Linked DNA regions of Homo sapiens: regions 2, 3, 4, 5 and 6 are each linked to region 1. The links come from fine-mapping of genetic effects on gene expression. A gene starts in region 1. Each other region holds a variant in brackets. All regions are shown on one strand. Distances are from middle to middle. Region 1 holds the start of KLHL5 (kelch like family member 5). Region 2 overlaps KLHL5 (kelch like family member 5). Region 3 overlaps TMEM156 (transmembrane protein 156). Region 4 overlaps RFC1 (replication factor C subunit 1). Region 5 overlaps TMEM156 (transmembrane protein 156). Region 6 has its middle 3.1 kb from the start of TMEM156.

Region 1 (5,078 bases):
GAGGCTGAGGCATAAGAATTGCGTGAACCCAGGAGATGGAGCCTGTAGTGAGCCAAGATCACACCACTGTACTCTTGCCTGGGTGACAGAGTTAGATTCTGTCTTAAAATAAAACAAAATAAAATGCACATACCTTCAACCCAGCAAGTCCACTCCTGGCAATAAATTCTGTAGATATAAAAGCCTCACAAGGATGTTTCTTTCAACATTATTTTAATGGCAAAAACCCAAAAACCTGAAATCAACCTGAATGCCCATTAGCAGGGAGATAGTTTAATAAATTGGTTTTTTTACAGTAATGAAATATCATGTAACTCTTAAAAAGATTATTAATTTATATTTCCATGTATATATAAAATTAGGTGAGAAGAGCAAAATGCTAAAAGATGAATACAATATGATCTCTTGTATAACAATAGCAAATCTCTTATATATGTGTATATAAGTTTGTCCATGATTTATAAACATGGAGAGAGGTGTGAAAGGCTATATGTACCAAGCTTGGCGTCAGCAATGATTACCATGGGAATGAGTGGAGGAGGATTGGCAAAATAAAGGTATCATTTTTCATTGCCAGATGTTTGCTGTCTCTGGCCCCTGCACACTCAATGCCTATAGCACTCTGGTCATTCCAACAACTAAAAATCTACCACCACCACCACCACCACCACCTATTTTCCAGAAGCCTTTAGGAGCAGGTTGATGCTTCCCTTGTTGAGAACCAGCTACTTAGAGTAACTGAAGTGTTTACAAAGATGATAGTGCCTGAGCTAAATCTTGAAGGATGAAGTGTGTTTTTTAAACCAGAGTTTCTCTGGGAGGCAAACAGTGTTATAAAAGAGGGAACACCATAATGTAGACTGCCTTGACCAATGAAGTGGTGTGTCTATGTTGGAAAATGGTTAGAAATAAAGTTGGATAGCTAGAGTGAAGTTAGAAGGATGTTGATCAGAAGGAGTCTGACAAAGGTGAGAGGAGAGGGGAAAGTGTCATTTCACTCTCTAATGCGTCCTGCACAGTACTGCCAAGTTAATTTCCTAAAACATTGTCCTGTTCAACAGTCCATTCAATAATGTCTTTGCTGCTTGCTCAAGGCATTTTATCTCATCGTATTCATCTAACTTTATCTCTTACTACACCTTAAAATTAATTTGGTATGGCTGGCTGATCAAACTGATTATTTCCCACTTCTTCCTTGTAGATATGCCCACTTCATGCTTTTATTAGAATCTTTTTCTGTAGAAATCTATCATTCTACCTAAACAATGTTTTACTATTCTTAGCAGCCTTCTCCCTAATGAAACTGGCCCATACCACTCCATTGCCATCCTGATATCTCCTTTCTTTCTTACAGTTTGTATGGTTTTTCCCGTATTATTTAGCATGAAATCATACTTGGCTTTTTATGCTTCTCATTCTTGTTTCTCTGAATAATTTGTATTAAGATAGACACCTCACAATATTTTTGTAAGCCTCCAAAGTAGTTTTTGTTTTTGTTTTTTGGTCAGCTTAGATAGGCATTGCCTTTTGTATGGAATTAGTTGATAAAGGAGTAAATACTGAGCACCCTGAAAACTCAAATTCTGCATTGATAGATCACACTTTAATATTGCAGCATTTTAATGTTTCTTATTTTACCTTATCAAATATTTTGTATTTGGTTCAATAGCTAGATTTAATTATTTTGGGGGTTAGGAACCAAGATATATATATCTCTGTGTCCCTGACAATGCCTAGTAGATTGCATTGTTCACAATAACTACTCAGTATTTTTGAGTTTATTTGTATTTGCTTTATCAATTTGCCTTAACTGTAACCATGTTCAAACCATTGTTTGTTTTGCTAACAACAGAGGGCACCATTAGGGCACTTGTACACCCAATAGTCCTATCCCAGTCCCTGGTAGCTTTTTTGAGCCGCACTTTTCCTTTTCCTAAGTAATGTCATAGAAATTTGGATGTTACACTAACTGGCAGTGGCCCATTTCTACTTATAGAGAAATCCTGGCCTCAGTTTATTTGAAAAAGAGTATTTGTTACATTTTGATCCTTTGTAGTTTTCAAACTTTTTATTCTCCTCATTATTCTTTATCCAAGTGAAATCTTACCCAGGATCTTACTGTATTAATTAGATCCATTTGTTTTCTGAAGGGAGAAGATAGAGGTGAAGGCAATAGTCTGGAGCCCCACCTTTGTACTCCGCTTTCCTCCTCATTCCCCATCCAAAGAGCACACCTGGAAAATCACCATAACTCATCTAATTTTACAAATGCTTTTTTAAAAACTTGTTTTGTGGTATTTCACTTAGGGACTTAGTTTAGAAATAGAAACATTTTAGTTTTAAAGTGATTATTTTTAAGTACAAAGGGAAATGCTATAGAATACATTTATTGTTTCAGCAATGAAAGAGTTAATATACTAAGCAGCAGAGACTGAGATACTGCAACGGGGATAGTGTTTTCTGTCTCTGTCATTTGTGGTTTAAGAAAAAGGGGGTGGTGTTCTGCATTTGAAAGGACTTTAATGAATGCTGTCAGTGTTTGTGAGACCTAATGGTCAGTATGGGAAAGGAGAGCCGGGAAAGTGGTCTAGCTGCTTCAGGATAGGTGGATGAGAGTTTGCTCTGATTGAACGGAATGTTCCACCGTGTTTCATCTTTATTCATTATCCTTTGTTCTTTAAAATCTGATATATTGGCATAAAAGTAATTGTAGATATATATATGAATGTGATTTATTTTCCTTTACATATTTTTGTTGTGTACAGCAGGGCATATACTTCTCTTGTCTTGGTTGGATGCACAAATCTGTGTGCAGTGCTTTTTGCCCGTTGCCTAGACGATCACTTGGTTTCTCTGAGGATGTCTGGTTCTCGTAAAGAGTTTGATGTGAAACAGATTTTGAAAATCAGATGGAGGTGGTTTGGTCATCAAGCATCATCTCCTAATTCTACAGTTGACAGCCAGCAGGGAGAATTTTGGAACCGAGGACAGACTGGAGCAAACGGTGGGAGAAAGTTTTTAGATCCATGTAGCCTACAATTGCCTTTGGCTTCAATTGGTTACCGAAGGTCCAGCCAACTGGATTTTCAGAATTCACCTTCTTGGCCAATGGCATCCACCTCTGAAGTCCCTGCATTTGAGTTTACAGCAGAAGATTGTGGCGGTGCACATTGGCTGGATAGACCAGAAGTGGATGATGGCACTAGTGAAGAAGAAAATGAATCTGATTCCAGTTCATGCAGGTTGATTATTTTCTTACTGTTAGAAAAGGGGTGTGGGGGTATGGCTCTATAATGTTTTTAAATAATTTAGTATTTATTATTTAAAATCTGATTATATATGTACATCTGCATACATATATATAATATCTTGGTATGAACATGTGATACTTCTGCTAGGGTTTTTTTAATGTTCTAATAGTCTGTAAAATTACAAAGACAACAAATAGCATTCATTTTGAAATATCTTGTGTTCTATATATAGATCTGGCTCAGCTTTGAAAATAATATATAGTAGCAATTTCATGTATCATTGCCTGTGGTTTGCTTCATTCATTAACCTTCTATATTCATATCAAAACTATAGAAGATATTTCTATAGTATGAAATTTTATGTGACATTTTAGTTTATAACAGATGATAGAGTCATTTTTTAATTTAATGAAAAGGAAAGGTTTTGCAAAGAGATGCACATTATAGTCACCAATTTTTTGACACAATTGTAGTTGTCAATAATATTTTTCTTATGGTTATTTCTCTTTGTCCTGTCTGTGTTACAGCTCTCCAGACTAATATAGAGAATACTAAGTAACATGTCTCTAAGATGACAGCTACTAATTCCTGTTACCTTCACTTTCACTGAAATGTGTGCTATTTAGGGAAATGAAGGACATTCCTCCAGGAGAGTTTAAGGGAATGTAGAGGGGCTAGATGTGATTATCTGGTGAAAAGGGGACAGGAAGAAGGGGAAATCAGTTAGAAGAAAGAAAATAAGGAAAAAAATAGGTAATTTCATAGTGACTTTATCTACCTTTATCTTGGAATCTGCCTTTATCTTTGAAATGGATTTTCTTATTCATCAGTTTAAACTACAATAAGATTATATAACAACTTAGAGCATGAAAGTCATCTTTCTGATTAATCTTCATTCGAAAATATTTCTAAATATTTAAAGGCACAAATAGCTTATCATTTGTCTAATTTGATTATTATATTTTTCTCTTAAAATTTCTGTGCAGCTTTTGATAACACTTGTAATTTGTAAGTTGGTTATTAATGATGTAGGTGTCATATGGATTGAGACAAAATGAATTTATATATTTAAGTGTCTCTTACTTGAGGATATTTACCACCTTTTCCTCTTCTAACCTTAAGAATGTGGACTTGGAAGGATAAAAAATGTTTACTCTAGTCATCTGTCATCTTCTGTGTAATGGAGAGAGGGGAATATCTGTATGTAGGTAAATAGTGTATTTAATTTAAATTTTTTTTAATTAGTTCATGACTTGGCATTATCTTAAGGGAATAGAAGCCACTAATTTAATTTGGAGATCAATTGAGCTAATGTGGTTCATTGTTTGTATTTTCTTTGGAGACTTGTTGCCATAAAGAGAACAATTTATATAGTAAAAGATTCATCATTTTTGTGGAGAACCAAAGAGTAAATGTTTCATTTGAAAATCAATATATCAAGAATATTTTAACAAAATTAGAAAAAATAAAACATTCATTTACCAACATAAGTAAATTCACATATAAAACTCTTAACATGTTATCTACTACTGGAGAAATTATAATGTGAATATAAAATTTTTATACATGTGTAATCTTGGAAAAATTATACACACATTGGTTGCTATAATTCCTTACAACAAAGGTAGTTTGCATGGCTAATGATTACTGAAATAAAATTAAGCTATTCTTTAGTATGCATACAGAAATATCTTGGTGGGCTATTCATTATGAAATAAAAAGATTATCCTTTTTTGACTGAGAGATTGCTATGTGCATTCTTCAAGAATTTTAAATTGACGTTTTTCATTTATAGGAGATATAAAAATAAAATGGCATTTTTAAAAA
Region 2 (5,078 bases), 55 kb after region 1:
AGCAGAGATGCAGTGGGGGTCTGTTTACTTGGTGATAAGTTATATGCTGTTGGGGGGTATGATGGACAGGCATACCTTAATACTGTGGAGGCTTATGATCCCCAGACAAATGAGTGGACCCAGGTATGGCATTCATGTTTCATTATTACACTGACTCTCTTTTTATTAAAACAATTCTTATGGTAAAACAGATCCCCTCAATCTTGTCCAATACTGAAATATATGGCATAAATATGACAATCACGTTTTGATTAGCGATGAGAAAAAGAGGCAATGTTTAATTTTATAACATAATTAAAATCCAGAATTACCTTTGAGATGTAAGTTAATACTCAGAGAAATTATTAATTATCTGCTACCACTTGCATGATGAAGTGTTCTAGCCTGATTAAAGCTGATAGGACTACTGGAGGGCTGCAACAATGGGAGGGGAGACTGGAAAATAAAAACAAGGATAGTAGTCAGAAAACTTTGAACAACTTGCCCATGTGTGAGCAGTCGGATTTTTAAATACTCAACCCATTGATATCTGGGAGCAGATTAAAGTCCTGATAACCTAATGAAGATGGCAACCCTAAATTACACTGAGTAAGAAACCTGATCTGGCAGTCTTACTAACAGAAAGAATTTCACCCTTGTGTATTTCTGGGAGGGTCTAGCACTTCTAAAAATGATCTTTTGAGATCTTTGCTTCCATCATCACCAAGAACAGAATCAGGAATTTGTGCTTGTGTCACCCAGTTCAGTACTTGGTACATAAAAGACAATAAATGTTTAACTGAGCCAAGATTTTCTTGTATACAAGGAGCCATGATAAGTATGGTCAAGAAAACAAAGCTTCTAGGCCAGGCATGGTGGCTTATGCCTATAATCCCAGCACTTTGGGAGGCTGAGGCGGGCAGATCACGAGGTCAGGAGTTCAAGACCAGCCTGACCAATATGGTGAGACCCCATCTCTACTAAAAATACAAAAAAATTAGCCGGGCATGGTGGCACGTGCCTGTAATCCCAGCTACTCGGGGGGCTGAGGCAGGAGAATCGCTTGAACCCAGGAGGCAGAGGTTGCAGTGAGCAGAGATCATGCCACTGCACTTCAGCCTGGGTGACAGAGTGAGACTCCATCTTAAAAAAAAGAAAAGAAAAGAAAGCTTCTGAGAAGACCCATGGTCATGTAACCTGAGGTCTTGGGTAGGTAAGATCTACATGTGCAAGAGGAGAATGCACCACACAAGGCAGTGGGTATTTAGTGTCCCATGGTACAGGCGCCAAGTGATACGGGAGATAAGAGAGAAAAAAGAAAGTGGTTATGGGGAAAGCTTTAGTGAGAATGAAGGGGGATTTAAACCAAGCCTTAGTGAATTGATCCAATTCAAAAAGATTGGAAAGAAGAAATTGTGAGAAAATGTGAAAGAAATGTCACCAAAGCAGAATTGTGTAATACGTATTGAAGTATGACTGGTTATAGGATCTGTGCTTGAGAGGAGAAGGAGTGCTTACTGGAGAGGAAGATTGGGGTCAGAATGGAGATCTGTGAGACCAAAGTGGGAGGATCGCTTGAGGCCAGGAATTCCAGACCAGCATGGGTGACAAAGTGAGGCGCCATCTCTGCAAAAATTTGTGGGTTTTTTTGTTTTGGTTTTGTTTTTCAGACAGAGTCTTGCTCTCGTCACCTAGGCTGGAGTGCAATGGCACGATCTCAGCTCACTGCAACCTTCACCTCCCGCATTCAAGAGATTCCCCTGCCTCAGCCTCCCCAGTAGCTGGGATTACAGGTGCCCGCCACCACACCCAGCTAATTTTTCTATTTTTAGTAGAGACGGGGTTTTGTCATGTTGGCCAGGCTGGTCTCAAACTCCTGACCTCGTGATCCACCCACCTTGGCCTCTCAAAGTGCTGGGATTACAGGCATGAGCCACCATGCCCAGCCCCCAAAATTTTGAAAAATTAGCAAGGTGTGGTGGCACGCACCTGTAGTCCTATCTACTTGGGAGGCTGAGGCGGAAGATCGCTTGAGCCCAGGAGTTGAGGCTGAAGTGAACCATGATCATGACACTGCACTCCAGCCTGGACAACAGAGCAAGACTCTGTCTCTTAAAAATAATCATATAATAATGATTTTTTAAAAGAATGGGGATGTGTGAAGGCCAAGCTAAAGAGTTTGGTAACAAGAAGCCAGCAGAAACTTTCAACCAAGAGAATGATGCAGTTGGGGTCGCATAGGTTGGGTTAGGGGCAGGGGAAGTGAGGGCTGGATAAAAGGAAAAGTATTTAGAGGATTGCTTCAGTTGCAAGGCTTGAAGCATTCAATGTAGATGGATTCAAGAGATATTGCCAGGTCTTGTTGATCTTTCTTTATATACACACACTTACTGGGTTGAATTGGGAGGTGTGGTCTCTGAAGAAAACAGGAAAGGAATGATGAGAGAAGTTCTCAGAAGACAATGGAATAGAGCATCTAAAGGGAGGAGTAA[G/A]GAGTTTCAACAGTGTAAGAAAGAATGAAGATTTGTCATTTTTAAAGTTGTGGGACCCTCTGAAAATCTGATAGAAGCAGAAGCCAGCACACAGTTTCAAAAGTAAACAGAAGAGGCCAGGTACGGTGGCTCACACCTGTAATCCCAACACTTTGGGAGGCCAAGGTCGGCGGATCTTTTGGGGCCAGGAGTTCGAGACCAGCATGGCCGACATGGTGAAACCCTGTCTCTACTAAAAATACAAAAATTAATGCTCCTGTAGTCCCAGCTGAGGCACAAGGCTGAGGCAAAAGAATCGCTTGAACTCAGGAGGTGGAGATTGCAGTGAGCCAAGATCGTGCCACTGCACTCTAGCCTGGGTGACAGAGCGAGACTCCATCTAAAAAAAAAAAAAAAAAGTAAACAGAAGAATAGAGTGTAGGAGCTAGAGAGGCATGCAGTTTTTAAATGATGATGATAGAAAGTTAGTATTTATTGAGCATATCTTACAGGCCAGGCTCTGTTCTAAGCACTGTAAAGAATTTAATCTTCAACAACCCTATAAGGTTGAGTTCTGGTATTTTCGCACTGTACAGGATGAGGAATCTGACACAGAAGTTAAACAGCTAACCCAAGGCCACATAGCAAATAAATGGTGGAGTTAGAATTAGAGCCAAGGATTTTTTTTTTTTGCTCCACAATAGAGATGACAAGAAGAGGGTAGAGAGAGATTCCAGATACTAGAAAGAAAAAGTGAAACTGAAGGGCACCTTTCTGAGAAAAGGGCAGGAAACAGAATTAAGAGCAAAGACTGGGGGCAGGGCGCAGTGGCTTATGCCTGTAATCCCAGGACTTTGGGAGGCCAAGGCGGGTGGGTCACCTGAGGTCAGGAGTTCATGGCCAGCTTGGCCAACATGGTGAAACCCCATCTCTACTAAAAATACAAAAGTTAGCTGGGCGTGGTGGCGTGCACCTATAATCCCAGCTACTTGGGAGGCTGAGGCAGGAGAATCGCTTGAACCTGGGAGGCAGAGGTTGCAGTAAGCCAAGATCACGCCATTGCACTCCAACCTGGGTGACAAGAGCAAAACTCCCTCTCAAAAAAAAAAAGCAGACTGGTCACCCTCAGACTAGAAGAAAGATCTTACCCTCCAAGGCTTGGGAAAAGATGAGAATTTGAGTGTAGAAAGGTACAGGGAGTTTTTAAGTGAAGAGAAAGAGAAGAAAAGGACTTAGATTGTGTGGGCTTTATCCTGTTTCTTAAGTGAGATCACTTGATGGAGGGAGGAAGGGATAAGATTGAGAGCTACAAGATTTCATTGGAAATTAGATGATTACCTAATATCAGCTTCCCACTATGGCAAAAATAGTTGTGAATGACACCCAAGGAGCTCAGAAAGATAAGAATCTCTTTTTCTGACATGTATTTAAGCCCTAAGTCCAGTTATATATATGATTTAAGACCTATCAGCCAGTTATTTGAGACTTGTTATTATTTATAATTAATGCTTTATGCTAAATCACCCCATATCAAAATTGATCATCAGTGTCCACATAGCTATTTTGCTTGCAAGCCACCTCTCTATGTTAAAGCACCTAAAAATGTGAACTCGTTATCATAGTGTCTGAAAAATAAAAGTTTTCCTGGGCCAGGCATGGTGGCTCACCCCTGTAATCCCGGCACTTTGGGAGGCCGAAGCAGGTGGTTTGCCTGAGCTCAGGAGTTCGAGACAGCCTGGGCAACATGGTAAAGCCCTGTCTCTACTAAAATACAAAAAATTAGCCAGGTATGGTGGTGTGTGCCAGTAGTCCCAGCTACTCAGGAGGCTGCGGCATGAGAATTGCTTGAACCCAGGAGGTGGAGGTTGCAGTGAGCCGAGATGTGCCATTGCACTCCAGCCTGGGTGACAGTGCAAGACTCCATCTCAAAAACAAGCCAAACAAACAAAAAAATTTTGAAGTTTTCCTTTCAGTGTTCTGACAGATGGACATTTGTATAGGCACTAAAATGAGATGACAAAGTCCTAAGCCACTACCCACCTCACTACCAGCCTTACCTCAAAGCAAGAGGTGATTGCATTGTATTTAACAAATTCTCTAAGCTACACTTTCTAGCTAGTTGTCATGACAGTGTCAGCTATTCACAATGTAGAGACTAAGTGTCTTGGATGATTTGAGAAGAGCTACTAATTATAAACTGACATTTTGATATAAATGATTTTTGAGGTCAGTTCGATAATGCTATCAATAAGTATGGTTTTAAAATAGGTTGATTGTTCCAAGAGACTTACAGTGATCAAAACAACTGATTCAGATGGAGAACTACTGAGAATTCTCTTATAACTGAAGTCTGACCTGTTCTTAAAATCTACTCATTGGTCTAGGGGGTCGAACTGATTAGGAAGTCATTTTGGCATTTGACAAAAATACTTTAGTACATACCCTAACATATATAAGTACAAAGCAAACTTTCTTAGTACTTTGCATTACTCACCCGCTGAATCCATGTTAACATTTTAACTCTCCTGGGTCAAATGCATAGATTCTTACTGTGTTCAGAGTAATTCTTCAGAACTATTTTTGTCCACACTTTTATTTCCACTATGAATTACCCAGTGTCTAGAGTTC
Region 3 (5,078 bases), 43 kb before region 1:
TTACTTTCTGGGTTTATCTTATTGTTCTTTTTCTGATGTTTTAGGTATAAGCATTTAAAGTTATATGTTTTGGTAATATTGCATAAGTTTAAACAGATAGTATTTTTTAATCATTCAGTTACAGTATTTTCTATTCTCCATTATAGTTTCTTCTCAACTATAGGTTATTTAGAAGTGAATTTTCTAAATTTCCAAATATATTACCTATTTTTAGCTTTCTTTTTGTTACTAGAATCTAATTTAATTTCATTTAGTCAGAGAAGTATATTAAAGATTGTTTGAAATGTATTGAGGCTTGTTTTTATAGTCTGGTATTGTATTAGTCTATTCTCACGCTGCTAATAAAGACATACCCGAGACTGGGTAAATTATAAAGGAAAAAGGTGTAATGGACTTAAGTTCCACATGGCTGGGGAGGCCTCACAATCATGGCAGAAGATGAAGGAAGAGCAAAGAGATGTCTTACATGGTGGCAGGCAAGCGAACTTGTGCAGGGGAACTCCCATTTATAAAACCATCAGATCTCATGATATTTATTCACTATCACAAGACACAGTATGGGGGAAACCACCCTATGATTCAATTACCTCCACCTGGTCCCACCCTTGACAAGTGGGAATTATTACAATTGAAGGTGAGATTTGGGTGGGGACACTGCCAAACCATATCAAGTATGTATTTCTTCTTTTTTTTTTTTTTTTTTTTTGAGACAGAGTCTCGCTCTGTCTCCCAGGCTGGAGTTCAGTGGCACCATATCAGCTCACTTCAAGCTCCGCCTCCCAGGTTCACACCATTCTCCTGCCTCAGCCTCCCGAGTAGCTGGGACTACAGGTGCCCGCCACCACGCCTGGCTAATTTTTTTTGTATTTTTTTTAGTAGAGACGGGGTTTCATCGTGTTGGCCAGGATGGTCTTGATTTCCTGACCCCGTGATCCACCTGTCTCAGCCTCCCAAAGTGCTGGGATTACAGGTGTGAGCCACCGCACCCAGCCCAAGTATGTATTTTTATTCCCTGAAAAGAATATGTGTTCCAGATGTTGAGTTCAATATTCTAAATACATCCATTAGATAAAACTAGCTATTTGAATTGTTTGAATTGTCTATATTCCTATTCTTCACATGGTTGTATTTTATGACTGGGAAGTATGTTTAAAATCTCCCACTAAATAATGGATTTATAATTGTCTTTTTAAAGCTATCTTTGTTGGGGCATATAAATTTAGAATTGATGCATATTCTTGTGAATTGAAACTTCTATCCATATATCCTGACCTTCTTTATTGCTAGTAATGATGTTAATCTTAAAATCTTACATTAATACCATGGCATGTGCTTTCTTCAGTTACTATTTGTTCCGTATATTTTTCTCATCTTTTCACTTTTATCTTAATGCTTTAGATAGGTCTGTTTTAAATGGCATATTTCCGGAAATTGCTTTTTTAATCTAGTCTGATAATTTTTTGTCTTTTTACCTGGATAGATTTGCCCATTTACATTTACTGGGATCATTGGTATATTTAGATTTAATTATATCATATTATTAATGCTTCCTATTTGTACCATGCTTTCTATTGTTTCTTGCCTTTCTGGCTGTTAAATTGATTCAGTGATTTTTTTTTCTCATTCCATTATTTTTCCCTTTAGTTATGTGAGGTTAGATACTATATTTCTATTATTTTAGTAGTTACCATAGTAATTTTTAACATGCATTCTTAAAGCCTAAAGTCAATCAACAGTTAACCTCTCTCAAACAATACAAGGGTCTTAGGATACTTTAACTCGGATCATCTCCTTCCTGACTTAAAGGTTACTTTTATACAGCATTTTGGTTCTATCTTGTTTTTTCACTGACATACAAATTAGTTGAGTTTTTAAATTTTATGCATCTAATATTTTCAGGATTTGTTTAGATTTACTCACATGTTTATAATTGTTGTTGAGGTTTTTTTCCCTGCCATTTCTTCTTGCATCTCTGCCCTTCCTTCTGGGATTACATTCCTTCTCCTAAAGCTAATTATTTAGAAGTTCTTTCACTGAGGGTCTGATGATTGTAAACTCTCTGTGTTGTTTACCTGAAAATATACATCTCACCAATTCTAGGTCAACAAAAATTTTGCCTCAGCACTTTGCAGGCATTTTTCACTGCCTTCTGATTTTCATTGTTGTTTTCAAGAGATGAGCTATCAGACTATTGTTCCTTTAAACTTTTTAAAGACAATCTG[C/A]ATTTATCCCTGGTTATTTAAAGATCTCTTGGCCGGGCACGATGGCTCACACCTGTAATCCCAGCACTTTGGGAGGCCAAGGTGGGCAGATCACCTTAGGTCAAGAGTTCGAGACCAGCCTGGCCAACATGGTGAAACCCCGTCTCTACTAAAAATACAAAAATTAGCTGGGTGTGGTGGTGGGCTCCTATAATCCCAGCTACTCAGGAGGCTGAGGCAGAAGAATCACTTGAATTTGGGAGGCAAATGTTGCAGTGAGCCAAGATCACGCCACTGCACTCCAGCCTGGGCGACAGAGCGAGACTCCATCTTAAAAAAACAAAACAAAAAAAAAAAAAAAACCTCTTCAGTTTTCATGCTCTGCAGAATTTCTCATCACTTATTTTGCTTGGGATTTGTGGGTTTCCTGAATTTGAGGATTTACGTCTTTCAATGATTCTGTAAATTTCTTAGCCATTGTCTCTTCAAATATTGCCTTTACCCTATTCTATTTCTTCTATCCTTTGCAGCTTTGATTAGAAATAGCTCCCTTTGCTTTCCATGTCTCTTAACTTCTGTGCTATGTTCTAGGTAATTTCTTTAGATCTCTATTCCAGTTCACTAATTCATTATTTAGTTGCATCTAATCTGTTCATTTCATTCCTTGCATTTCTAATTTATTATATTTTTCACAATTAGAACTTCCAGTTGGTTCTTTTTCAAATCTGCCTGGTAACTTTTAATAGTCTTTGTTCCTTGCTCATATTGTTTTTTAGAATCACAAAATGTGGCAGAGCATTGGATCTCCCCACATATTTGTTTTATATTATTTTTAGGCTGGGGGAATAAACGACTCTGTTTGTCCTCCCTATTAACTTTGTGTGTACGAATTGTTGCTATTTTTGCTATTTTCCCAATCACAGTACCTTACATTTTGCTTTAAACTTCATATATTTTCAGGTGCCTTTCCCCAAGTTTTATTAAGGTATACTTAACTAACAAAAATTATATATATATTTATGGTATACAATGTGATGTTTTGAGATATATATATTGTTAGGTGATTAAATCAAACCTAATAACATATCCATCACTCACATACCATTTTCGTTTGTGTGTGGCGAGAACATTTACTCTCTTAGCAATTTTCAAGTATATAATCCATTATTATTAGCTATAGTCAATATGCCATACAATAGATCTCCAGAACTTATTCATCTGTCTAAATGAAATTTTGTATCCTTTGACCAACAACTCTCCATTCCCCTCACCCCACCCTGTCGTCCACGGTAAACATCATTCTATTCTATTCTCTGCCACTGTGAGTTCAACTCTTTACGACTCCATATATAGTGAGATCATGTGGCATTTTTCTTTCTGTGCCTGGTTTATTTCACTTAGCATAGTATCCCCCAGATTCATTCATACTGTTGCAAAAGACAGAATTTTCTTCTTTGTTAAGGTGGAATAGTATTATCTTGTGTATATGTACCACGTTTTCTTTATCCATTCATTCACTGATGGACACTTACATTGATTCCATATCTGGACTATTGTGAGTAATGCTGCAATGGATATGGGAGTTCAGAGTGATTCCACATCCGGACTATTGTGAGTAATGCTGCAGTGGATATGGGAGTTCAGAGATCCTTTGACACACTGATTTCCTTTCCTTCAAATATAACCAGGAGTGGGATTGCTGGGCGATATGGTAGTTCTACTTTTTTTTAAAGAGACAGGATCCTACTATGTTGCCCAGGCTGCTCTCAAACTCCTGGCTTCCAGCGATCCTCCCAACTCAGCCTCCCAAGTAACTGGGACTACAGGTGCATGTCATTGTGCCTTATTAGTAGTTCTTATTTTGAATTTTTTTTATTTTTTTTGAGATGGAGTCTCACTCTGTCACCAGGCTGGAGTGAAGTGGCATGATCTCGGCTCACTGCAACCTCCACCTCCCGTTCGAGCAATTCTCCTGCTTCAGCCTCCCGAGTAGCTGTGACAACAGGCACATGCCACCATGTCCAGCTAATTTTTGTATTTTTAGTAGAGATGGGGCTTCACCATGTTGGCCAGGATGGTCTCGATCTCTTGACCTCATGATCTGCCCACCTCAGCCTCCCAAAGTGCTGGGATTTCAGGTGTGAGCCACCGCACCCAGCCTAATTTTGAATTTTTTGAGGAGCCTTTATGCTGTCTGTCATAATGGCTGTACTATTTTACATTCCCACAACAGTATACAAGGGTTCCCTTTTCTCCACATCTTCACCAGCACTTGCTATATTTTGTCTTTTTGATAATAGCCATCTTGGGTGTGAGATAATATTTCACTGTATTTTCATAAAATTTCAATTTGTATTTCCCTGATGATTAGCGATGTTGAGAATTTTTTCATATATGTATTGGCCATTTGTATGTCTTCTTTCAAGAAATGTCAGCCTGATGCAGTGGTTGATGCCAATAATCCTAGCACTTTGGGAAGCCAAGACAGGAGGATCGCTTGAGCCCAGGAGTTTGGGACCAGCCTGGGCAACATAGTGAGACCCCGTCTCTACAAAAAAAATTTAAAAATTAGCCAGTGTGGTGACCCACACTTGCAGTCTTAGCTATTCAGGGGGCTGAGGTGGGTGGACCGCTTGAGCCCTGGAGGTCAAGAATGCAGTGAGCCATACTACATTCCAGCCTGGGCAACATAGTGAGACCTTGTCTCAAAAAAAAATAAATAAATAAAAAGAAAAGAAAAGAAAAAAATGAAAAAAGAAAAAAGTAAAAAAGAAATAACTCTTCACTATCCTTTGCCCATTTTTAAATCAGGTTATTTTCTTGCTGTTGCATTGTCTGAATTCCTTATATATTTTGGATATTAAACCCTTATATATA
Region 4 (5,078 bases), 260 kb after region 1:
CCTGGAATCTTAACAGCATGACAGACTTAACTACTCAATCATTTTTGAAATACTCTCTCTTCCCTTTGCTTCTGTGATCCCACGCTTATCAAACTTCTCTCCCATATTTGTAGCTGCTACTTCTCAGTTTCCTTTTGGTTTCCACCCTCTTCTACTTCACAAAGAAGCAGGGGCCAAGGCCCTCTTCTCTTCTTGTTCTGTACTAGTTTACCAGATGCTATTAATCCCTTCATGCCAAGAATGCCCAAGTTTGTCCATCTAGTTCTGACTTCTGTTCTAAGCTCCAGTCCCACATATCTGCTTGTCTACTCAGCATCTCCATGTGGACATCTCACATAACCCTAAAGCACAGTGTGGCCAACAACGAACTCATTATCATCTCCCCAAACTAGCCCTGCCACCAATCGCATGATCCACCAAGCTGCTCATGCCAATAACAAGATCATCCCCAATACTCTTTCTTCTCACTTTCCACTTCAATTATCACCAAGTCCCATAGATTTTGCCTCTTCTAGTGAAACCTCTCCACTTTTCGACATTTTCACTGCTCCCCCAGACCAGTCCCTATCACTTCTCACCATCTCTCCTGATGATCTCTGTGTAGCTATTTCTGCCCCATCCACAGCACTTGGTACATCAGCAGCCAGAGCGATCTTTCAGAAATTCAAATCTGGTCATGTTATCCCTCCACTTTAAAATTCCTTCTCGGCCGGGCCCAGTGGCTCACGCCTGTAATCCCAGCACTTTGGAAGGCCAAGGCAGGCAGATCACCTGAGGTCGAGAGTTCGAGGCCAGCCTGACCAACATGGAGAAACCCCATCTCTACTAAAAATACAAAATTAGCCAGGCATGGTGGCGCACGCCTGTAATCCCAGCAACTCCAGAGGCTGAGGCAGGAGAATCGCTTGAACCCAAGAGGTGGAGGTTGCCGTGAGCTGAGATTGCGCCACTGCACTCCAGCCTGGGCAACAGGAGCGAAAACTCCATTTCAAAAACACAAAATAAAAATTCCTTCTCTTAGACAAAAGTCTTAAACATTAGGCCCTGCAAGATGTGATCCTATTAACCTCTTTGGCCATTCTCATCCCTTGGTCACTATGCTCCAACCATAATTTTTCTTTCAGTTCCTCAAACATACCATGCAAGAACCTTCCCCCTGCAGGAACATCATACATTCTGGCCCCTCTGCCCAGACCACCACGCCATCACAACCCCTTCACACCTGTTGAATCCCTTTCATTCTTCAAGTCTCCATTTAAATGTCACATTCTACATGCCCCACCAAGGACCAGGTTCCTCTGTTATACTACCTAAGGGCATCTTAGATTTTTCCCTCATAGCACATATCCCAATTATAATTAAATTATTTATTTAATGTCTCTTTCTTTAGGCTATAAGTGCCATGCAAGCAAAAACATTAGTTTTGTCACTGGTATAGTCTCAAAGCTCAGCCTTTCTAGGGCTACTTGTTATTTAAAGGGAAATTTTTCTAAGTATCAAGCAGTGATTCATAACATGAATAAACATCCCTAATTCTTGAAGACAGTAACTGAAGCTTTTCTGTTGCTCATTTTTAATTATTAATCCTCTGCTGCTATAATCATCGTGAATACATACATGGACCCATACGGCAGAGGCCCTCACAGAATGGCATGCCCTCTCAGTACTCTTACCTTTGGTATTTCTTTGGAGCCCAGAGCCTTGGGACCTTCTCGATTTAAGTAGCTTCGATAAGCTTGATAATTAGTGCGTTTCTTTTCAGAATCTTCAGGACTTACAGACTTTGGGAACAGGGAAAGGAAAATGAACAAAGTCATACAGAATTCATGCAAAATTTAAAATACATATCTAGAAATAAACATTATTTTTATTGTGTCACTTCTGTGTCTGGCTGTGAAATTAACAGTTTTAGCTACACAAGTACTTCCTAACTTACAGACAACTGACTTACGAACATCCCTGCATCAGCGCTTCTCAAAACTTTCCACTCTCTAAAGCCACACACCTCAGGGCAGATTATGGGAATAAGCCAAGTTGCCAGCTCCAAGCAAAGAAATGCAAAAAGTGTTTTACTTTAGGAATTCACCTGAATTTTAAATTATATTTCATGATATATCCATATATCCATGTTTAACGGGAAAATACATTTTTTCCCCAAGTAAACCTGATCGCCCGAGAAGATATTCTGTGTTAATCCTATGACCTTCCATGCCCCTAAAGCACCAGCCTGCATCCCTAAGGACATAAGCATTCCAGTAGGAGAATCTAAACAGTCAGCTCAAAGAAGGTACAAGCTTTACTCCAAAGAGAAGACACGTTCTCTATGCTATTTCATCTCCTCCCATTCTACTTCTCTCGGGGAATTTACCATAGGTATATCTCAGAAAATCCTGGGGAAACTTTTCAAACTATGCATCCCTAGATCCACCTCCAAGTTTCTCTTTCGGA[G/T]ATATGGGGTATGGCTAGAATGTGTTTATGTGGGGGAAAAATATCTTAGATAGCTCTCATTTAAGAACCACTATCAGGTGTTTGTTATTTTTCCACTTCCTATTTTAACATTATTTTTAACTTGTAAGCAATCCCAAATCCTTTTGAGAGTAGACAAAATAGTAACTTCTATACAAAGAAATGGCGGCCGGCTGCAGTAGCTCACGCCTGTGGTCCCAGCACTTTGGGAGGCCGAGGTGGGTGGATCACGAGGTCAGGAGATCGAGACCATCCTGGCTAACACAGTGAAACGCCGTCTCTACTAAAAAAATACAAAAACTAGCCAGGCTTGGTGGCGGGCGCCTGCAGTCCCAGCTGCTCGGGAGGCTGAGGCAGGAGAATGGCGTGAACCCAGGAGGCGGAGCTTGCAGTGAGCTGAGATCGCGCCACTGCACTCCAGCCTGGGTGACAGAGCGAGACTCCGTCTCAAAAAAAAAAAAGGAATGGCTTAACCAATAAAATAGTTCAGCTGGTTTGGCTAAGAGGTCGATAAGCCATTAACAGGCTGGTCCTAGAATCTAACCCTACTTTCTAACAATGGTTCTCAAATGTTGGTGTGTGTTCATATCATATGAGGAGCTTATTAAAATACAGCTGCCCACACCACATTCCCTGGGAAACTCCATTTTTTTAACAAGTTTCACAAGAGAGTCCAGTGCATACCAACATGGAAAAACGATTAATTTACGACACTCATTCTATGAAAAGAATTCTGAATGGTAAACAGCGTATACAATAACTTTGAAGGACACCCACTTTATGAAGTCAGAATTATTTGACCAAGACCAACTAAATGTATTAAATAGACTTTATTTGACGTTTCCAACCAAAACTGCTTAAGTAAAAGTTTTGAGTTATTTCTATTCTAACTTTAAAAAGTACAGTGAAGAGTATCATTTAAAGATTTCCTCTTTCTTCATAAAAACAGACTGCCTCTGTAAATGGAACATGTTTTAGTGTGCCTGAAGAAAACCATTCATTTACCAGATAAGCATTTAGTGCAGAAAAAATCTGAGATCAAAAAGTTAATTGCTCCTTTAAGCGTATTTATAAGCATTGTCCACAAACAAAAGCATTCTGAAATCATCACCATTTCACTGTTCTGCACTAAAATATAATGGTGATGACCAGTTAAAATAGGTGATATTCTGCTTTTAATCCTAAGTGCCTAAGAGGCATGAATGAATAGTGGTTTCTCATTATGAATCTAAAGTAGTTCCAAATTGGAGATTCAGAGACCGTTCGCTTCTCAAATATATTTCCTAGCAAAATTTTTCAAAGATATTCATTATCTCATCATTTTTTCCTTTAAAAATAATTTCAGTATCGCAACACTGTTGTACAAGAATAAAAAAGAGTAAATTTAGGACTAAGCCAAATAACAATCATTTTAATAATAATAGTTAAGATGGCACTTATTAGGTCCCAGGCACTGCTCTAAGTGCTTTTACATATGAAGTCATTAGGTACTATTATTATTATTCCTATTTTACAAACAGCACCAAAGCACAGACAGGGGAAGTGACCAAACCTGCTCAGAGTCCCAGAGCCTGAAACTGGCTCCAGAGCCTGTGTGTGGAGCCACTATGTTATACTGCTTCAGAGGACCTGAGTTCAAGGCTGGCCCTGCCACTTACCAGGTGGATGATCTTAGAATAGTTAAACTCTTTCAGCCTGTTTCCTCGTCTTTAAAAGTTGAATAATAAAAATAAATATCTCACAGGGTTGTTGTGAAAATTATATGAGCTACCACATGTAAAGTATTCGCACAGTATCTGACACACAATAACAATAAATATGGGCTTACTTAGCTATATTAATACTCCATATCCTACAACAGCTTCTAAATAAGATATCTTAAAAATATTATAATGACTTATGATCGTTAGAAATAAAACTTGAAAACAAACCCAGACTAACACATAGCACCAAAATATATACAGCAGTCCCCCTTTATCCGAGGAGGGTATGTTCCAAGACCACCCCAGTAGGTGCCTGAAACCACAGACAGTACCAAACTATATATATACTTACATGTACTGTTTTTTCTATCTAATAACCAAGCCGGCTACCAAGTGACTAACGGGTGGGTAGTGTATCCAGCATGGTTATGCTGGACAAAGAGATGATTCACATCCTGGGTGAGATAAAGCAGGTTGGCCAGAGAGATTTCATCATGTTACTCAGAAGAGTACCCAATTTAAACCTTATTAATTGTTCATTCCTGGAATTTTCCATTTAATACTTTCAGAACATGATTAACCACAAGTAACTGAAACTTCAGAAGGCAAAACCATGGATAAGGGGGAATACTGTACTCCCTAGAAAGTTCCTACCAAGGCCGGGCGCGGTGGCTCACACCTGTAATCCCAGCACTTTGGGAGGCCAAGGTGGGCAGATCACCTGAGGTCGGGAGTTCAAGACCAGCCTGACCAACATGGAGAAACCCCGTCTCTACTAAAAATACAAAATTAGCCAGGCATGGTGGCACATGCCTGTAATCCCAGCTACTTGGGAGGCTGAGGCAGGTGAGTTGCTTGAACCTGGGAGGCAGAGGTTGCAGTGAGCCGAGATTGTGCCACTGCACTCCA
Region 5 (5,078 bases), 56 kb before region 1:
ATTTTATTTTATTTTAAGATGGAGTTTTGCTCTTGTTGCCTAGGCTGGAGTGCAGTGGCATGATCTCGGCTCACTGCAACCTCTTCCTCCTGGGTTCAAGTGATTTTTCTGCCTCACCCTCCTGAATAGCTAGGATTACAGGCATGCACCACCACGCCCGGCTGATTTTGTATTTTTAGTGGAGACGGGGTTTCTTCATGTTTGTCAGGCTGGTCTTGAACTCCCGACCTCAGGTGATCCGCCCACCTCGGCCTCCCAAAGTGCTGGGATCTTAATATATTTATAATCAAAGTTGTAATCAGATTGTAACTACAATAAAAAAAAATTGCCTTCACTAATAATGCCCCAGGAAGGATATGGAGATGCACCATCTGATGGAACTCCATAATCTGTATCTTTTTTAATATCACTAAAATACATGAAAAACTGATTTCTTGCCATCTTTCCATTTTCCTCACTGGCACTTTTCATTTTATGAAACTTTCAACTTCTTCAATTTATATTGCTATGATATGACCTAAAAGAGAGATAGAGAAATGTTTACTGTCAATAGTGTAGTCTTCTTATTCAATAAGTGACCAACTGAGCTTTCTAGAATTGATGACAGATCCTTTATATTCGGCTATGGGGTAATTTCGTGATGACTTTTAAACCTCAGCTTTAAATAATTGAATTGGAAAAGAAATAAATAGAAGACACATCCTTCCCCAGTATAATTTTAAGAAATAAATAAATTCTACTCAATCATTTTTGCTATCAGGTGGACTATATTCTCATCTCCATAAGCAAGGATTTATGAATTTAACTGCTGCCATTAATACTGCTGAGAGTCAACATCTAAATGTTCACTCTCAGAGATGGAAATGCATTCCAGAATTACTCCAGTACTAAGACTGCAACCTCTCAGAGGAAGTACATAGAATACTGAACAGAATTGGGAAAATACATGGCACTATAGGACAAATGCTCAAGTCAAATATTTTCTCTTTTTAAAGAAAAGCAACAGTAAGATTAAAGAAACATCAACTACCTTTCTTTTTAAACTTTTATTATAAAAATATATTATACACACATATATAAAATGTATTGTGCCAGTTAAATAATAATAACTAAGACCCATGTACCTATCACCCAGATTAAGAAACAGAATATTACCAATGCATTTGAAGCACCCCTATCTCTTCTCACCCCTACACTATAGCATAGTTTAGAAATATATACATATATATGGAATATACCATATGTATTCTGTGATTTGCTTTTACTTTGCTTAACATGTTTTAGTCATGTTGATACATAGAGCTGTAGTTAATTATATATGGTATTTTTATGAATGAATATACTATAATTTATTTATTCATTCTTCTGACAGTGAACATTTGTGTTGTTCCATTTTTTGCTGTTATGAATAATGTTGCTGTGAACTGAAACTCTCATACATTGCTGGTAGGAATGTAAAATAGTATAATCATTCTGGAAAACAGATTTTCTTATGAGTTAAACATATACTTACCATATGACCCAAAAATTCCACTCCTAGAAATTTACACAAGAGAAATAAAAACATATGTCCACATGAAGACCTGTACGTGAATTTTTATAGCAGCTTTCTTACTTATAATAGCCAAGAACTGGAAACAATTCAAATGTCTAAAAACTAGTGAATATATAAACAACTCTTGCTGTATTCATGTAATGGGATACCACTCAGCCACAAAAAGGAACAAACTACAAGCAACAGCGTGGATGAATCTCAAAAGCATTATAAAGAGGACAAAATCAAGTGACTATATATTGTATGATTCCACTCATATGACATTCAAGAAAATGGAAAAGTGCATTGGCAGTAGGAGAAGGGCTCTTCTGTAATGGAGCTTTGTAATGTACGATTCGGCTTTGTGTCCCTACCTAAATCTCATCTTGAATTATAATCCCCAGATGTTGAGGGAGGGACCTGGTGGGAGATGACTGGATCATGGGTTAGTTTCCCCCAGGCTATTCTTGGGATAGTGAGTGAGTTCTCACAAGATCTGATGGTTTTATAAGAGCCTCTTCCCTCTTTGCTCTCCCTTCTGTCTCCTGCTGCCTTGTGAAGAGCTGCCTTCTTCCCCTTCACCTTCCACCATGACTGTAAGTTTCCTGAGGCCTCCCCAGCCATGCAGAACTGGGAGTCAATTAAACTTCTTTCCTTTATAAATTACCCAGTCTCGGATAGTATCTTTATAGCAGTGTGAAAACAGACTAATACAAGCAAGAAGAAACTTTTAGGAGTGATAGAAAGTGTTATATCCTAATTGTGGTGGTAGGTACACTGGTGTGTACATTTGTCAAAACTCATCAAACTATACACTTAAAGTAGGAGCATTTTGCTGTACGTAAATTATATGTCTGTGAAGTTGATGTTAAAATAATGCTACTCTGAAAATTGATGAACATGTCTTTAGTGTACACTAAGGGTTTAATTACTGGGTATTTAGTGTTTCTTCAGTTTTACTAGAAATGCCATATCATTATACAAAAATGGTTTGTATCAATTTATATTCCCACCCGCAGTGTATAAAAATTCTTTTTCTTTTTTGAGTCAGACTCTCACTCTGTTGCCAGGCTGGAGTGCAGTGGTACGATCTCGGCTCACTGCAACCTCTGCCTCCCGGGTTCAAGCGATTCTCCTGCCTCAGCCTCCTGAGTAGCTGGGATTACAGGCATCTGC[C/T]GCCATGCCTGGCTAATTTTTGTATTTTTAATAGAGATGAAGTTTCACAATATTGGCCAGGCTGGTCTCAAACTCCTGACCCCAAGTTATCTGCCCACCTTGACCTCCAAAAGTGCTGGGATTACAGGCATGAACCACTGCCTGGCAGTTCTTTCTTTTTGACACACATTCTGACCAGTGCTTTTCAGATTTTGCCAATTTGGTGAGTGTTAAATAGAATCTCATCATGGTTTTAATGTATATTTTCCTAATTTTCTCGATTTTTTCTAAGTTTTGATTTTTTGTTAGGTTGTCTTTTATTTAATTAATGTTTAGAAGTTATTTACGTTTTCTGCTTAAAATTTCAATGAATTCTCTACATTTTTTATCAGGATATCTTCTCACAGTACCTTATCTATTTATTTTTTTTGATCTTTCAGTTAAAGGGAGCTCTTAATGTAGTGAATTTATCAACCACTTTCTTTCTAATTTGAGCTTTGTGTCTGAAGTCCTTCTTCCTTAAGGTTAAAAAGATCTTTACCTATATTTTCTTCTAAAAGTTGTTTTTAAAGTTTCGCCTTTCACATTTCATTTCTTAATATACGGACTGCCTGGGCACAGTGGCTCATGCCTGTAATCCCAGCCCTTTGGGAGGCCAAGGTGGGTGGGTCACTTGAGTCCAGGAGCTTGAAACCAGCCTGGCCAACGTGGCAAAACCCCATCTCTACAAAAAATACAAAATAATAATAATAATAATGATAATAATAATTAGCCAGGCGTGGTAGTGCGTGTCTGTGGTCCCAGCTACTACAGAGGGTGAAGTAGGAGGGTTGCTTGAGCCCAGGAGGTTGAGGCCGTGGTGAGCCATGATCATACCACTGCAGTCCAGACTGGGTGACAGAGCAAGAACCTGTCTAAAACAAACAAACAAACAAAAAAACAAAAACATGGAATTGTATACAGTACGATGTGTGGAACTAAATTTGTTTTTTCTTTATGTATAACCAATTACACTAGCATTTATTGAGTAGTCTATCTTTCCTTATCTGTAATGACACCTCTGTCATATAAAGTTTCCAGGTACATATAAGCGTGTTTCCGGGTTCTCAATTTTGTTCCTTTAGTCCATTTTTCCATCTTTGCAAAGGTATCATGCTGGCAAACTACTTTTCCTGTATACAAGCTCTTATATCTGAGAGGAAAAAGTCCCGTCGCCTTGTTATTTTTCTTCAGAAGTATCTTAGCAATCCTTCGCTCATTTCAATAAATTTTAAAATCAGCTTGTTAAGTGGTGAAGTACCCGGTGGTACTTTTGACTTGATTCTAGAAATCAGTTGGAGAAGAAAGATATGAAACTGAATCCCTCCTATCATTCATTTCTTCCTTTCTTTTTATTTATTTATGTATTTATTTATCTATTTTTTATTTTTTTATTTTTATGTTTTGAAACAGAGTCTTGCTCTGTCACCAGGCTGGAGTGCAGTGATCTTGGCTAACTGCATAACTGCAACTTCTGCCTCCCGAGTTCAAACGATTCTCCTGCCTCCGCCTCCCAAGTAGCTGGGACTACAGGCACGTGCCACCACACCCAGCTCATTTTTTTGGTATTTTTTGGTAGAGATGGGGTTTCACCATGTTGGCCAGGATGGTCTTAATCTCCTGACCTTGTGATCTGCCTGCCTCGGCCTCCCAAAGTGCTGAGATTACAGGCATGAGCCACTGCACCCAGCCCTTTCTGTCTATTTATGTAGAGTTCTTTGGTTTCTTTGATATCTTTCAATAAGTTTTCTAAATTTTCTCCATTATGATCTTATATATTATTAGATTAATAATTAGTTAGATTTCCTCCTAGGCGCCTTGCTTTTTGTTGCTATTGTCAATAGCATCTTTTAGGAAATATGTTTTCTGTCTGTTGGTAGTATATGGAAATACAATTGACCTTTAAATATCAATCTTATTTTTTGCCACTTTATTAAACTTTTTTATTAACTTTAATTTTTATAGCTTTTGGGCTTTCTATGCAAATATGCATATTGACTGCAAATAATTATAACTTTATTTCTTACTTTCCAATCTTCATACTTTTTATTTCTTATACTTGTCTTACTGCAATGTCAAGGACGTTCAGTACCATGTTGAATAGAAATTATGAGAGTGGGCATTCTTGCTTGCTCCTGATTTTAAGAACACTTACAATGTATCATCATTGATAATATTTCTTATAATTATTTTAGATGCCCTTTAGCAATTTAAGCAAATTCTCTTTTAGTCCTAGTTTGCTGGGAATTTTTAATTATAAGGGCTATTGAATATAATTGAATGCTCTTTCAACAATTATTAAGATGATTATATAGTATTTCTTCTTTGATCTGTTAATGTAGTGAATTAC
Region 6 (5,078 bases), 27 kb before region 1:
GAATGTCAGTCATGTCTAGGTTGCATGCACATGACTCATTCATTTACTTATTAAATGATTGTCGATCCTGTTTGGTGCCAGGTGCTGTGCTGAATTCTGGTGTTCAGAAAATAGTACATCTAGAAGATAGAAACATTTTAACCATTGCCAATTTAAAAGGAAAAAAAAGTATTGTTTAATTTGCATTTGTTTGGTTGACAGTAATTCTAAAGATTTTTAATATTTGCTGGCAATTTGAATTTCTTTTGTTAATTGCATGTTCATGTCTTTTATTGCAGCATTTATATCCTTCCTGTTGATCTATAAGACTTTTTTCTCTATTGGGAATATGAAATCTTTGCATATGTTTTGCAAACATTTTTCCCAGGTTGTCATTTGCCTTTTCATTTTGTATATGGTGGGAGTTTTTCCACCCAACTATTTTGTAACAGAGTATAAAACACGTACCTAAAAGTTTTATGCAGAGAAACACAGTTCTTCATTGTATTTCTAATATTACACGAAATAATGTATAGTTTATCAATTTAATCATTTATTCTTTTGTTTTTGTTTTTTGTTTTTTGAAACGGAGTCTCAATCTGTCTCCAGGCTGGAGTGCAGTGGTGCAATCTTGGCTCACTGCAACCTCTGCCTCCCAGATCCAAGTGATCCTCCTGCCTCAGCCTCCTGAGTAGCTGAGACTACAGGCATGCACCACCACGCCCAGCTAATGTTTTGTATTTTTAGTAGAGACGGGGTTTCACCATGTTAGCCAGGATGGTCTCGATCTATTGACCTCGTGATCTGCCCACCTCAGCCTCCCAAAGTGCTGCAGTTACAGGCGTGAGCCACCAAGCCCGGTCTCATTTATTCTTAAATACAAAGTTTACTTGCAGCCTGATTTTGGCTTCCTGAAATGCACCAAAACTCGGTCATCTCCCTTGAAGTGGCAACATCTGACTCTCTAACATCCTGTTAGGGTTGATGATAATACTAATGGCCCACATCTCCATAGTTTTGTTTTACAATTTCCAAAGCACTTTTACAAATATTAGATTATTTTTTAAAAACACAAATATTAGATTATAAAGGGGATTCTAGGAACTGCTAGAAATGGCTACAAATCTGCAATTACTTACCCACTGCAAGCTTCTCCTTCCTATTTCAATGAAGGAATAAGAGATTAACGAATCTCAAACACAAGAGGTTGTTGCTACTACGCTAGTGTTTAACTTTCCTAAGTCTTATATTTCATATCTGAGATCCAGGTTCTCAAAAATACTTTAATGTGTTTCTATTTCTAATCAAGACCAAACGTCTTAATTAAATAATTATGCATTCTGTGTTAGATACAAATGTTTAAAATTGAGAGGATCTTTTATATCAAGGAGGTGCTCTACCCTAGGAAAGCAAAAGCAATATACTTTTTAGAAAATTATAAATAGCAGCCTTAAAAAGGATAGTTTAAATTTAACTTCTACATATTTATTAATATACGAAATATACGCTTTTATATACTTTATATGAGTAATTTTTTTTCCTAGTTGAAACTGTCCTCTATCCCTTCACTATATTCTGTGGAAAGGTCTTTATTGGATCAACAGCAGCAGCAACAATCGATGGCATTTACTGAACATTTACTATGTGCTACTGCAGTGTTGAATGTTTTGTATGAATTATTTTATCCAATTCCCCAGCAACTCTCTCAGGGAGTTGCTGTTATTCCAATTGGATAGACAAAGAATATGGGGTATAGCGAAGTCAAGTAAGGGCTCAAAAGTCACATAGTTAATAAAGGGTGAAGCTAGGTGTCAAACCTAACTCTCAACCCAACACTCCATTATACCTCCACTGTCAGACTGTGTGGGAACATTTGTCAAGAAGGGCCACTTATAAAATAATAATCATAGCAAACACCAATACAGTTTTTACTATGTGCCTGATGCTGCACTAACCCAGGGTTTCTCACTGGTGGCACTATTGATATTTTGGGACAGGTCATTCTGTGTTGTGCGGGATATCCTGTACATTGTAGGATGTTCAACAGCTGGTTCCAGTAGCAGCCCTCTCCACCCCAGTTTTTATTTTTTTAATTAAAAAAAACAAAATTAAAAGACAGGGTCTCTATCACTTATGCTGGAGTGCACTGGCATGATCACGGCTCACTGTAGCCTCGAACTCCCAGGCCCAAGCAATCCTCCCACCTCAGCCTCCTGAATAGTTGGGACGATAAGCATGTGCCACCGGGCTTGGCTAATTTTAAATTTTTGTAGAGATGGGGCCTCACTATATTACCCAGGCTGGTCTCAAACCCCTGGCCTCAAGCAATCATCCCACCTCAACCTCCCAAAGCGCTGAGATTATAGGCATGAACACCACACCTGGCCTCCCCGCCCCAGTTTTGACAAACAAAAGAAAAAAAATGTTTCCAGATATTGTCAGATGTCCCTGGGGTGACAAAACAGCTCCCAG[C/G]TGAGAACCACTGCATGAAACGCTTCACTTATATTAGATCATTTAAAAAATTTTTTTTTATTTCCATAGATTTTTGGGGAACAGGTTATATGAGTAAGTTCTTTAGTGGTGATTTGTGAAATTTTGGTGCACCCATCATCTGAGCAGTAAACACTGAACCTAATTTGTAACATTTAATTGTTGTAACCACCTTATGAAATAGTTACTATCATTATTTCCATGTTAGTCACTTCAGGCCAGTTCTATTCTAGGTAACCTAATCAGCCAGAAAGTAAACTTAAAAGACAATCCATAACCTGGATCAGCCTAACTACTTATCTTTCTTTTCTTTTTTTTATTTTTGAGACAGGGTCTCGCTCTTTTGCCCAGGCTGGAGTGCAGTGGCACAAGCAAGGCTCACTGCAGCCTCAACCTCCTGGGCTCAAGCAATCCTCCCAACTCGGCTTCCTGAGTAGCTGAGACTACAGGCACACATCACCAGGCCCAGCTAATTTTTGTATTTTTTATTTTGTATTTATTTTGTATTTGTATTTGTATTTTAGAGAAGGGGTTTCGCCATGTTGGCCAGGCTGGTCTCAAGCTCCTAGGCGCAAGTGATCCACTCAGCCTCCCAAAATGCTGGGATTACAGGCGTGAGCCACCGCTCTTGGCCCCTAATTACCCCTAATTGTGTTACTGGCAGATAATCATCTACTTTGGCAACACAGCAATTCTTAGATTAACACATTTTTGTGGGGAAAAATAATCTCTTTTTAACAAGGTCTACCTGAGTATGGAGAGGGTCCCCGGAAATTCCAGTATCCTCATTCATTTTGTGGTCCATTCAAAAAATATTTACCCAACACTAACAAGACACTAGGCAGCGTCCTGAACGCTGGAGATCTAGCAGCAAGCACGCAAGGTTCTCACGCTCACATTCTAGTGAGAGCGTACATTCCAATGAGAGAGAGTAATTAAGTAAATAATAATTTATTTTCAGTTATTGTGGGTGTCCTGAAAAAAAAATCGGGCAAAGTATGAGGGTGAGATGTGCCAGCAGAAAGTTGGGCAGGGCACATGTTGGTTTAAATAAGGATGTTAATGAAGGCCTTGTCATTAATACAACACTTGGGAAAAGGCAAAACCACAGAGACAGAAAATAGATCAGTGGTTGCCAGAGGCTGGAGACAGAGGGAGGGGTTAATGACAAAGGGACATAAGGGAATTTTTAGGGTGATGGAAATGTTCTATATCTTGATTATGGTGGTGATTATACAACTGTGTGTTAGTCAAAATTCTAGACCTGTACCCTGAAAAAGATGTACATCATTTACTGTATATAAATTATAATTTAATAAACATAATTCTGTCTCTCTCCACTCACACAGCCTGTTTGCTATTTTAGAAACAGATAATTAAGAAAGGGGCTGTGGTGTCTCTGAGGCTGGCGGCTCTCCCCTGGGCTGGAGCTTGAACTTAATAGAGCAGAAATCTAGAGAGAACCTCTGAGCAGGCCAACAGGAGACAGCAGTGGTACCTTCAGTGGCTGTGGCAAGGTTGCGGCAAAGAACTCCATGACATGAGTGCACACAGGAGGTCACCCCTTCAACAGCCAGGTTGAGTCAGCCCCTCAGAGAACCGGAAAAGGTGCTCAGCACTGCTCAGACCCCAGGCTGCGGGTCACTGAGCTGCCTTATCTTTGTTCACTCAGTGCATTTCTTTTTTATCATTATTATTTTGTTTTTTTTGAGATGGAGTTTCGCTCTTGTTGCAGTGAGCGTGATCTCAGCTCCCTGCAACCTCCGCCTTCCAGGTTCAGGTGATTCTCCTGCCTCAGCCTCCGGAGTAGCTGGGATTACAGGCGTGCGCCACCACGCCTGGCTAATTTTTGTATTTTTAGTAGAGACGGGGTTTCATCATGTGGGCCAGGCTGGTCTTAAACTCCTGACCTCAGGTGATCCACCTGCCTCGGCCTCCCAAAGTGCTGGGATTACAGGCATGAGCCACTGCGCCTGGCCCACTCAGTGCATTTCTCCTGTAAGTGGGGAAATATGGTTTGACCTGCCACCACCGGGTTTAGAATCCTCAGTGGGCAGAGTTTGCCCCAGGCCCTCACACTCAGGCCTCCTGAGACGTGGCTGGTCTTCTCATGCGCAGCCCACACAGGGCTGCTTGGCCCATTGTGTCCTGACCCCAATCACCTGTGGCTGGAAAGGCAGTTTGTTTTCACTAACAAAACCCCCTGCACTGAGACTGCAGCTTAGACAGGAAAGAACCTGTTGGAGCCTCTTTCCTCAAAAGAACTATGAGTCAGGCTTGTCTGCCCAGCTGTATACTCACAGAGTTGCGGGGACAAGGAGGGAAAACCACCCTGGAATGGATTCTGGAACCACTGTGGTATATTTCAGCCTCTGGAAACAAAGTCTGGCAACCGAACCACAGAATTCATTATATTGTTAATTACATGCATAAACAGGCAGGAAAGCATAACCAAAACATTCTTCATGATGGTAAATATAACAACCATTGAATATGTACGAGATAAAGTAAAATAAATTGCTCAGAGTCTGAAAGTATCAGGCCTAATAGATCCAGTCTCAGATAAAAAGAACTGGCTGCAACAAGAGAGCCCGTCCGACTCTAAGTAA

What was found. PIP is the estimated chance that this variant, and not a neighbour inherited with it, causes the effect.
Region 2: its variant is fine-mapped to the expression of KLHL5 in whole blood (TOPMed, PIP 0.98).
Region 3: its variant is fine-mapped to the expression of KLHL5 in whole blood (TOPMed, PIP 0.98).
Region 4: its variant is fine-mapped to the expression of KLHL5 in whole blood (INTERVAL, PIP above 0.99).
Region 5: its variant is fine-mapped to the expression of KLHL5 in whole blood (TOPMed, PIP above 0.99).
Region 6: its variant is fine-mapped to the expression of KLHL5 in whole blood (INTERVAL, PIP 0.94).

What each region holds. Positions count from the first base shown.
Region 1 is chr4:39,059,794-39,064,871 of GRCh38, forward strand. It overlaps KLHL5 (kelch like family member 5), which reads left to right and starts at 2,439. Exons shown (of 11, transcript NM_015990.5): 1 at 2,439-3,242. The coding sequence starts at 2,860.
Region 2 is chr4:39,115,208-39,120,285 of GRCh38, forward strand. KLHL5 (kelch like family member 5) reads left to right here. Exons shown (of 11, transcript NM_015990.5): 10 at 1-123. Among named protein-coding and RNA genes, the nearest start is that of KLHL5, 56 kb to the left of the region's middle. The variant G/A (reference allele first, on the strand shown) is at 2,472.
Region 3 is chr4:39,016,487-39,021,564 of GRCh38, forward strand. The region is part of intron 1 of TMEM156 (transmembrane protein 156); the gene reads right to left. Among named protein-coding and RNA genes, the nearest start is that of TMEM156, 13 kb to the right of the region's middle. The variant C/A (reference allele first, on the strand shown) is at 2,223.
Region 4 is chr4:39,315,242-39,320,319 of GRCh38, forward strand. It overlaps RFC1 (replication factor C subunit 1), which reads right to left. Exons shown (of 25, transcript NM_002913.5): 10 at 1,674-1,781. Among named protein-coding and RNA genes, the nearest start is that of RFC1, 49 kb to the right of the region's middle. The variant G/T (reference allele first, on the strand shown) is at 2,449.
Region 5 is chr4:39,003,337-39,008,414 of GRCh38, forward strand. The region is part of intron 1 of TMEM156 (transmembrane protein 156); the gene reads right to left. Among named protein-coding and RNA genes, the nearest start is that of TMEM156, 27 kb to the right of the region's middle. The variant C/T (reference allele first, on the strand shown) is at 2,711.
Region 6 is chr4:39,032,955-39,038,032 of GRCh38, forward strand. No RefSeq gene overlaps it. Among named protein-coding and RNA genes, the nearest start is that of TMEM156, 3.1 kb to the left of the region's middle. RefSeq lists an enhancer at 3,973-4,502. The variant C/G (reference allele first, on the strand shown) is at 2,452.